2 separate regions of the Homo sapiens genome follow, and region 1 is linked to region 2. Evidence: fine-mapped expression QTL. Tissue or cell type: skeletal muscle. Region 2 holds a variant in brackets; the other region holds the start of a gene. All regions are shown on one strand. Distances are between the middles of the regions.

Evidence for each region. PIP is the estimated chance that this variant, and not a neighbour inherited with it, causes the effect.
Region 1: it holds the start of SLC26A7, and the variant in region 2 is fine-mapped to the expression of SLC26A7 in skeletal muscle (FUSION, PIP 0.91).

The regions. Positions count from the first base shown.
Region 1 is chr8:91,247,020-91,252,347 of GRCh38, reverse strand. It overlaps SLC26A7 (solute carrier family 26 member 7), which reads right to left and starts at 3,029. Exons shown (of 19, transcript NM_052832.4): 1 at 2,935-3,029; 2 at 2,504-2,809. The coding sequence starts at 2,696.
Region 2 is chr8:90,797,235-90,802,562 of GRCh38, reverse strand. It overlaps NECAB1 (N-terminal EF-hand calcium binding protein 1), which reads right to left. Exons shown (of 13, transcript NM_022351.5): 2 at 848-872. Among named protein-coding and RNA genes, the nearest start is that of NECAB1, 8.1 kb to the right of the region's middle. The variant T/G (reference allele first, on the strand shown) is at 2,829.

The DNA of each region.
Region 1 (5,328 bases), 450 kb before region 2:
TTCTTGCTATTTGACATATAGAAAACACTCAAATGAATTTCCATTATCCTTAATTTAAATGCACTCCTTGAGAAAGAAGAACGAAAAACAACTACTAGATTGAAACATAAACATTCTATCTTTGTAGGTCAAGAAACAGTAAATTGGACAATTTTATATAATTCAACTATGCTGAGTAACTGAAAAGCTGCTACAAAAATGGGTAAAGCTAAAAAAAGGTGCTTGAGCCTATTGTTTGCGTTATGATGCAAGAACAAAAATTATCCCTCTTTCTTCTAATTTTCCTTAGAAAATTGAGCTGATAATAATTGCCAATATTGTATTCAGACAAACAAGAGGTAATGATATCTAAATGCCTTCCTTACTCTGTATCCTATTCTAGTTATTTTTCTTGTCACTTTGCCTTTGAATCTAAAAACTGCAGGGATGAAACCTGAATGCAAAAGCAATTTGAAGGGAAGGATAGTCACACCTTTCCAAAGAAATGTCTTCTATTACTAATAACATTGGTGTTATGAAAAGTCTTGTTATTTTGGCAGTGTAGACTATAAAGTGAAAATGTTGAGTGTTGGCTTTGGAATCAAGTCCTGACTCCACTACTTATCAGGTATGACGTCCAGGGAAAATTTCTAACTCTTCTAAACCTCCATTTTCTCCTGTGGAAAATGGAGAGGAGACTGCTGTGTCTTGGGATTCTGTTAGGATAGGGGGAGATAATGTATGTAAGGGTTTAGGGCATTGCCTCTTACAACAAATGGTAGCTTATGGCATTTCACTTTTTAACTGTCTATACGTAGTAGATGAGCATGAAAAAGTTTGAGAAAATTGTTTTTAAAAGAATAGACATTTTAAAAATAATTAGTCTTAAATTTCACAAACAAAAACGTTTTTGTAGTGCAGCCTTATCCATTCACTGGTAGCCTTCCAAGAGAATCAGCAGCCAGATTCATAACTTCCCAAGACACAAGGGCTGAGTATGTGTTGTGCTTCTCATCAGTCTTGGGGCTGGCCAATGTGTCCCTTCATAACCAGTGAAATACATGACTCGTAAAACAAAATCCCTCAAAATCTATACCCAAATAAAAGCCATATAATTAACTACTGAAACTTATACATAAATAGTATCACTAATGATACACCATAGATAACTTTATCTTATCCTCAAATTGTCTTATTAACTTGATATTTTCCAAAGGTAAAAAAAGAAATTATTTTTAAAAACATAATTCTCTTTCATTTTACATTAAATTAAAGCAAAATAAATTTATAGCATGCTGAAACTATCTGGTTAAAAAAAAAATTCATCACTTAAGTTTTCAAAGTACATTGGTATTGTTTCATTTGGAATTTAAAACTGAATAAAAGCAAGTCCAAAAATGCCCAAAGCTGTTATTTACTTTGCATTTTTCTGAAAGATTACTATGCATTTCTATTGGCAAAATGGTCATTAAAAATATAAGACTATTCAGTAAAATGGAATCCTATAAAGTATGACAGTATTATGGATCTTAAAGTCACTAGTGCAGATGTTCCTAATTATACCAAAAACACAAATACACAAACCAGTTTGTTCCAGCTACAGAATAATTTAATTAAAAGAGTGCTTATAATTTAACAGTGTAAATAATAGTTAAAGCCAAGGAGGTAGTGAAACTGCAAGGAAATATAAGCCTGCAGTGTCTATGCCAAGGAAACTGCTCTAAATTCTCAAGGTTCAGAAATTAGTTCCTTTCCTTGCTACAGGTAGAAAATTATTTGAATTAGCCAAGAACTGCAATGGATATATCTTTAAGGCAAACAAATACACACACATGCACACTAGGTCGGTAGCTTTTGCCAATAGAAACACCTATCTAAATCCAGAATATCATTTAGTCTGTTTTGGGGAAAGTTAAAATCAGACTTCTCACCAGTTTAAATATCTTACTGAGAAATAGATGTAGTAGGTAATGTGATACAGAAGTAAATCAGCATAGACAGTAAAACATAAGCTCTCAGGACACACAGGATTCTCTTTGCAAATACCAATCTTGGCAAAGAGCCTCCTTTATGTACAGAAAGCTTTGTTCCTTGTTTATAGCAACTCTCAAGGCTACAACAGGTAATTGTGTGCTGCTAATTAGGTTCCAAAACGATTGTGTTCAAGCCAGGAGTATTTTATAGCTTGATTCAGTGAAAGTAGGCAACTATATCCATAAGATCATGTTATAAAAACTCACACTCCCATAATTACTAATCTTTCACTCTAAAACAGTGTGAATTTTAACAGTGAAAAAATGTAATGTCATTCAAAAGTTTATTCAATGCTTAATAGCTATCAAAATACAGAGGAAAAAAGACAATTAGGAAAACTCTTCTCCAAATATATCCAATATGCTTGTTTCCCCACAGCTAATATCCATTTATTTAGCTAAATTGTTTATTCTAGGTCATAGTATTATTCCAAGGAAGCAAAGTGACATCTACTCTGCATAATACAGGAAACTCAAATGCAATACATTACCTTGGGTCACCTGTTGAACTGCCAACATTATCCCAGACACAGTGTCTGGAAGCAAGTTTTCTTTCAGATTGTAATGTGGTGCCCAATCCAAAATGGGCAGTCGCCTTCTACACCACTGTATAATGTCTTCACACTGGGGGGTATGCATCTTGCTCCAAAGCATGCTTTTCTTTTTCCTCTTTGCTCCTGTCATTTTTCAGATTTCTTCTTGTAGAAGTAAACTTCTCTAAACAAGAAAAAAAATCATTGCAGAACACCTCCTTTCAATGCCAAGCTCCAATTCGTCTGTGGTTTACAATGTCAAAGCTGCCCAGAAAATAAGTAAATAAAAGAGAGAGAGAGAGAGAGATTAACAGAAGCACTTCAATATATGCAGCTGTCTTTTTATGATACAGCTAATTATTCTAGATTTAAAAACTATAGATTAAAACCTTGAATTCTTATCTGAAGGAGAAGTAGTTCCTGTTCATGTAATATTTTTTTCTGGTCTTGGAAAAGTAATGGGTTCAGTGTTAAGTTGGTCTACAGCTCTCTCGCCAGTAATTCCCCTTATATTCACTGTAGTCTTATGTTTTTGGCTGCAATCCCAATGGTTAATGAGGTAGTTCTGGGCGTGTGTTGGAAGTGGGCTGGGCTATGCTAATGAAACCAGGAAATATCCAGCTAGTCCAGTCTCTCTCTACAAGCTGTGCAAAATCATAAAACTGCCAGAGGGATCTATTGTGCAAAATATATTCAGAGAATCCAGCCCTATTTCTTTGAGAGCTATATATTTTCAACATTATCAGATGACTGCCAGTTCTACAAAATTCAGAAACATAACAGGGCATTGCTAAAGGTCCTTACCATTTTTATTCCCTGGCAGATGAGGTTTTCATTCATACAGAAACATTCAGATAGCTACTGCCCAGTCTGGGAAAGGAGTAACTAGTTCTCATAAACAAACTGAAATTTCATCTCATGGGCTAAGAGAATAAGTATCACAATGAGCACATATTTGTGACAGGAGATCTTCCCTGTCTCTGAAACTGTTCATTCAGTTTTCTCTGATGGTTTCTCTAAGTCCTATAATTCATTCTACTGTAACTGAAATTTACTGAGGAATGTTATATGGTTCAAACTATTGTTTGAAGTATCCTTAGCTTTTTTTATGGTGCTGCCTTCTTTTTGTATAACTTTTGGGGGTAGGTGTTCTCTTTTTAATAAGGGGTGTTACATTTTATAATAGAACAGACTGTCAAAGATTTTTATTTTATGATCATTTTGCTTAGCCTCCAAAAGAAAAAGAAAAACTTAAATCTATGAACTGTGCCATTGGAATTAAACCAAAAAGGCAACATACTAACTAAAATTGTGTAGCCAAGGAAAAGAATACCATGTATATAGTTTGCTGAGTCCTTTTTAATGCCCATTTGTTTGGAGAATAGAAATCTGATTTCTGGAAGCCTTTATAATAACAAAGTACTTGGATCCCTCCTGCTGCACTTTTTCCCTTTGTTTTTAAATTAAAGTGAAGAGTTGCTCTCCATCTTCTAAAGATGACATCTCTAGCTTTGTGTCTGTGCAAAAATACCTTTCTTTTTAAATCCAACGAAGAGACGCAGCGGGGTGGGGGGGAATTTATTTATACTTACAAAATAGAAACTGCTTTGTTTGTCCAACTGTTTTTACATTATATTAAATTTCTAAACCATTCAATAGTTCAGGTTTGGGGCCTGTAGAGAGAGCCCCATTTAGAGACCAAGTTGTAGCATTTTAATCCTATCCTCTTGGTATGAGAGATGAACTCACCAAATAATTGTAAATTCATGCTTGAAACATTACATTGGTTTTCCTTCACAAAAAGCAATCTTTACTTTTGTTTTATATACTCCATTTATTATATACGCAAAGAAATTCAGAAGCTATACATACACTGATTATGTATTACCTTTATAATAAAAATAAACACAAGATTTTTTTTCAAATCCTATCTAGGTCATAAATTCTAACGTATGTTAACAATATGAGAAAAATAATTGAAAGCTTAACTGAAATCACCAATCAACATCTATCATTTGTGTAATTTCAATCATTTTTAAATTTGTGTTAAATTCCATAACAAAAAATTCACATGAACAGGATTTTATGAATTGAAGGTAAATAGAAGTACCTAAATCATATAGCACCAGCAATTGTTCTAAAACATTTCAAGACCAAGAGAGGGTAGAAATTAACAAAATAGTTCTGAAATCTCTCAATTTAAAAATTTCTTAAAATTAGAATGAATCTTTCCTAAAAATCTTTTTTGAAGCTTAAATCTGGAATTCCAATTCCAGATGTTTTTTTTCAATTTCCATGTGCATACATATTATTTAAAACATGTCAAACCAGAGCATGGATCATGCCTATTTATAATCAGCAATGCCAGAAAGAAAGAAAAACATTATGAGGAAATTTATTCACACACATAAGATTCTCAGAGTAACTTGAACAGCCTGCAAAATTCAAGAATGCTAAGTGTATTCATTCAAAAGTTTCAATGACTAAAAGTAGCTTACAGTTCAACAGTATGTACCATCTATATGGAATATCTCTTCCTAAACATCTGGGATAATACCTATACAAATAAAAAGATGAAATTGTTATCTTCTACTTCATACATGGATTAACAGAAAGATTTTTTGTAAAATCTCATTTTGATTACATCACTGATATGTTTGAATTTCAGTTATCTCCAATATCAAACTTAAACTCATTAGTGGAAGCAATGCAGTCCTTCTCTGCTCCCCTTCCCACCTTCTACTCACTAGCTTCTCATTAACTCTAATTCAGCAAGTTTTTAT
Region 2 (5,328 bases):
AAAAAGGGAAAGAACCCTTTGTATCCTAAATTTGTCAAGAAATTCTTGTCAAGAATATACCTCTACCATGGTACTTATAATATAGCAGCAAAAAGAAAAACAAAACAAAACAAAAACAAAACAAGCTTTTATTTGGTGTTCTCTGGGACAAAGTTTCTAGTGGAATAATAGAGTCGAAAGATACTGCTTATGACAACTTAGATGTTGTGCAGTCATCATTAAATCAACAGAGCAAGTTTTTACTTCGAGGTTGCCATCTCCTACTTCTCTGTTGCTATAGATTATCATTTCCAGGGCATACACTTCAAATAGGAAAGCAGTGGCCAGGAACAATGGGGTAGAGATAAAGCTAGCAATGCAGGTTTCCAGGCAGACCTCTTGGAGTACAGTAAAATCTCCAAAGCCATGTTAAAGCTCAGTGTGGAGAGTCCAGACTTGCGTGTCATACAGACCTGGGGTCCAGTCTCAGCTTTGTATTGTAATAATTCTAGGACATAATATGCACAAAGCACTTGGCCCAATGCCTGGCACACAGTAGACACTCAATGAATAGAAGCTGCTATTGCTGCAAAATTATTTTTTGGTGCATGAAAAGGAAAAGCCAGAGTCCAAATATGGCAGAGCTCCTCACTTCAAAGGCATAAACATTCCTTTCAAATGTAAATCCTTCTGCCAACTTCTTATGAATATTTAGGGCCTAAAACTTATCTAAAACGATCACTAGTACAATAAGGTAGTATTTTATATGTAATTTTCCCGGACTGTCCCCTTTTTCCTGATTATTATTTATAAGGTAATATAAAATGTAAGAGATTAATAAATAGATACTGTAGATTTTTGGTCTTACCATTTTTGTCTGCTCTCCTCAGTATCTGGAAAGGAAAAAGGAAAAAATTTTATCAGCATTTTAGATAAATATTGCAACGAACGTTACACTTACACATAATTTATTCATAATTAAATAAAATACATTCTAATTTTAAGTAAGCGTTTCCCAATTGAGATCTTTCTTTATAATATCTAAAACCTGAAAATGACCCAAATGTCCATGGATAAACAAACCGTGAATGAACAAACCAACTGTGGTATAGCCATACAATAGAATACTACTGAGCAATAAAAATGAATGAGCTATTTATACACACAACAACTTGGATAGAACCAAAAATAACTAGGCTGAGTAGAAAACCTAGATGCAAAATAATACCTACTTATAATTCCATTTATATAAAATTCTTAAAAATGCAAACTAATCTATAGGGACAGAAAACAGATTAAGCTTCCTAGGAATGGGCAGGGCAGGGGAGGGTGGATTACAAGAGGATGTAAGAAAACTTTTGCAGGTGATAGAGATAGTTATTATCTTGAATGTGGTAATGGTTTCATATATGTTAAAACTCATCAAGTTTACACTTTACATATGTGCACATTAATGTAAGTCAATCATACCTCAATAAAACTGGGATTCAACAAAACATAAAAGAAAAATAATACATCATGGGTAAAGAGTAACCACATGTCTATGCTATATCTACTTTATTTATACTTTATTAATCATATTATCTTGGACGTATTTTAAATTGTCTTGATGTATAAGAACTATTTGGCCATCCGGTATCCATTACTCTTTAGTAATGATTTCTAATGTTCTTCTGGAAAGCCTACATTTCCTACATGCTTGGCCTAGGTGCTCCAGTGTTGGGCAGGGCACTTATGTCTGACAAACACGGTGTCATATCCCTCTGGTCACGGTGACTGCTCAGGGATGAGCACATTAGGGCCAGTGAATGACAGGTCATGGTTTTGCCTGAGTGGTTAGGAGAGAGACATACTCTTCTTTCTGCTGACTTTGAACCTAGGAATATATAGGCAATGCACTGCTGTCATTCGTTTTGTTATTGGATATATTGTAGGTTGAATTGTGTCCTCCAAAACCAAATGTTGAAATCCTAATGCTCAGTATCCACGAATGTAACTTTATCTGGAAATAGGGGTTTGGGAGGAAAAGACTTTGATAAAATCCAACCTTCCTTCATGATAAAAACTCTGAACAAACTAGGCATTGAAGGAACATACCTCAAAATAATAAGAGCCATCTATGCCAAACCCACAGCCAACATCACACTAAACAGGCAAAAGCTGGAAGCATCTCCTTGAATGCTAGAACTAGAACTGGAACTGGAACAAGACAAGGACGCCCACTCTCACCACTCCTATTCAACATAGTACTGGAAGTCCTTGCCAGAGCAATCAGGCAAGAGAAAGAAATAAAAGGCATCCAAATAGCAAAATAAGAAGCCAAATGGTCTCTCTTCACTGACGATATAATCTTATACCTAGAAAACTCAAAGACTCCACCAAAAGCCTCCTGGGACTGATAAACGACTTCAATAAAGTTTCAGGATATAAAATAAAGGTACAAAACTCAGTAGCATATCTATGCAGCAATAGCATTCAATCTGAGAGACAAATCAAGAATGCAATCCCATTTACAATAGCTACACAAAAAATAAAATACCTAGGAATACATTTAACCAAAGAAGTGAAAGACTTCCACAAGGAGAACTACAAAACACTGCTGAAAGAAATCATAGATGACAGAAACAAATGGGGAAACATTCCATGCTCAAGAATTGGAAGAATCAATATTGTTAAAATGGCCATACTACCCAAAGCAATGTATACATTCAATACTATTCCTATCAAACTACCAATGTCATTTTTTACAGAATTAGAAAAAACTGTTCTAAAATTCATATGGAACCAAAATGGAGCCTGAATAGCCAAAGCAATTCTAAACAAAAAGAACAAAGCTGGAAGCATCACAT[T/G]ACTTGACTTCAAACTATACAGTAAGGCTACAGTAGACAAAACAGCATGGTACTGGTACAAAAAACAGATACAAAAATGAAACAGAATAGAGAACCCAGCAATAAAGCTGTACACTTACAGCCAGCTGATCTTCAACAAAATCAACAAAAATAAATAATGGGGAAAGGATTCCCTATTCAATAAATGGTGCTGGGATAGCTAGTAGGTCATATGCAGAAGAATGAAACTGGAGCACTATCTAATACTATAGACAAAAATTAACTCAAGATGGATTAAAAATTTCGATATAAGACCTCACACTATAAAAATCCTATAAGAAAACCTAGAAAATATCATTCTTGACATTGAGAAAAAATTGGCCTTGAGAAAAAAGTTATAACTAAGTTCTCAAAAGGAATTGCAACAAAAACAAAAATTGACAAGTGGGACCTAATTAAACTAAAGAGCTGGAGCACAGGAAAATGAACTATCAACAGAGTAAACAGAGAATCTAAAGAATGGGAGAAAATATTCACCAACTATGTATTCAACATATTACTAATATACAGAATCTGTAAAAATTATATTTCAAAAAACAAAAAAGAACCCCATTAAGAAGTGGGCAAAAGACATGAACAGACACTTCTCAAAAGAAGACATACAAGTGGCCAACAAACATACGAAAAAATGCTCAACATCACTAATCATCAGAGAAATGCAAATCAAAACCACAATATGCTATCATCTCACACCAGTCAGAATGGCTATTATCAGAAAGTCAAAAAAAACACAACCACATTCTGGAGCTGCTGCAGAGAAAAGGGAATGCCTATATACAGTTGGTGGGGATGTAAATTAGTCTAGCCTATGGAAAGCAGTTTGGAGATTTCTCAGAGAACTTAAAACAGAACTACCATTTGACTCTGCAATCCCGTTACTGAGTATATATTCAAAAGTAAATAAATCATTGTACCAAAAAGACACATGGCACTCGTATATTCATTGCAGCATTATTCACAATAGCAAAAATACTAAATCAACTTAAGTGCCCATCAGTGGTCAATTGGATAAAGAAAATGTGGTACATATACATCATGGAATACTACACAGCCATAAAAAAGAACAAGATAATGTCCTTTGCAGTGACATGGATGCAACTGGAGGCCATTATCCTGAGTGAATTAATGCAGAAGCAGAAAACCAAACACTGCATATTCTCACTTATAAGTGGGAGCTAAACATTGGGTACACATGAACATAAAGATGGCAGCAACATACACTGGGGACTAATAGAGGGAAGAGGGAGGTTGGGGAGAAGAGTTGAAACACTAACTGTTGAGTATTATGCTCACTACCTGGGTGATGGAATCATTTGTACCCCAAATCTCGCCATCATGTGATACACCCACGTAACAAACCTGCACATATTCCTCCTGAATCTAAAATAAAACTTTAAGTTATAAAAAGAAAAGAAATAGGGTTTGCTGATGTAATCCCATTAAGATAAAATATAACTGGATTGGGTGGTCCCTAAGTCCAATGACTGGGCATCTTACAAGGAGAGAAATTCAGAGATGCAGAGATAGAGGATAGAGACCACATGATCAAAGAGTCAGGTATTGGCGTGGTGCAGCTGAAAGCCAAGGATGCCAAAGTACTGACAGGTGCCATCAGAAGCAAGAGAGGAAGTATGATACAGTTCCCCCTCTGGAGCCTTCCCAGGGAGCATCATCCTGCTAGCAGCTTGATTTCGCCCTTCTCACCTCCAGAACTGTGGAGGGTACATTCTATTGTGATAGTTTGTTAGAGCAGCCCTAGGAAACTAATACAATATATAACCTGGAAAGAACCAACACCCAGGAAAGTAGTTTTCAGAGACTTAGGGAAACTGGGTCCAGATAGCACTCCTTGAGTCTCTGATTAAGTAATCTTGATGAGATGATCTCTGCTTTTTCATTACAGGAGCCAATACATTATTTTTTAAAACAATCTTAAAACAGTTTGCATTATTTTTCCTGCTAGCTGCAATGAAGTTAACCCTGATAGATATGCTAATAGAAAATAATCTGGATAACATACTACAGAGCTATGTTATATACAGTACCAAAGAGGATGCCCCACTAGCACATTGCAAAGACAAACTTTAATTGCTTGGAAGGGGCCCTTGAGGATGACTTTTTTTCCCTAAGTAACTTGTAGTTATAGTTAAATAACCAGAGCTACTCTTATATTTAGATCGTCACTTCTTGCTGGCCAGCTTGAAACATGAGCAATCATTTTTATTCCCAAGTTGTCTGTTTTACTGCTTTCTACTATAAAAACATTATCCTCCTTTCATTCTGCCAACTTCACGGAAATGAGGTATAGATAAATCTAATCATTGCCACAATGTGTTTTAAGATACTAGTATTACTATTAAAGATCTCACCAATGAAACTGTTCCAGCAACAGGTAGGTATCACCTAGACTCGCATGCAGAAGAAGATGGTCCTCCTTTTTTACTAAATTGATGTAATTACT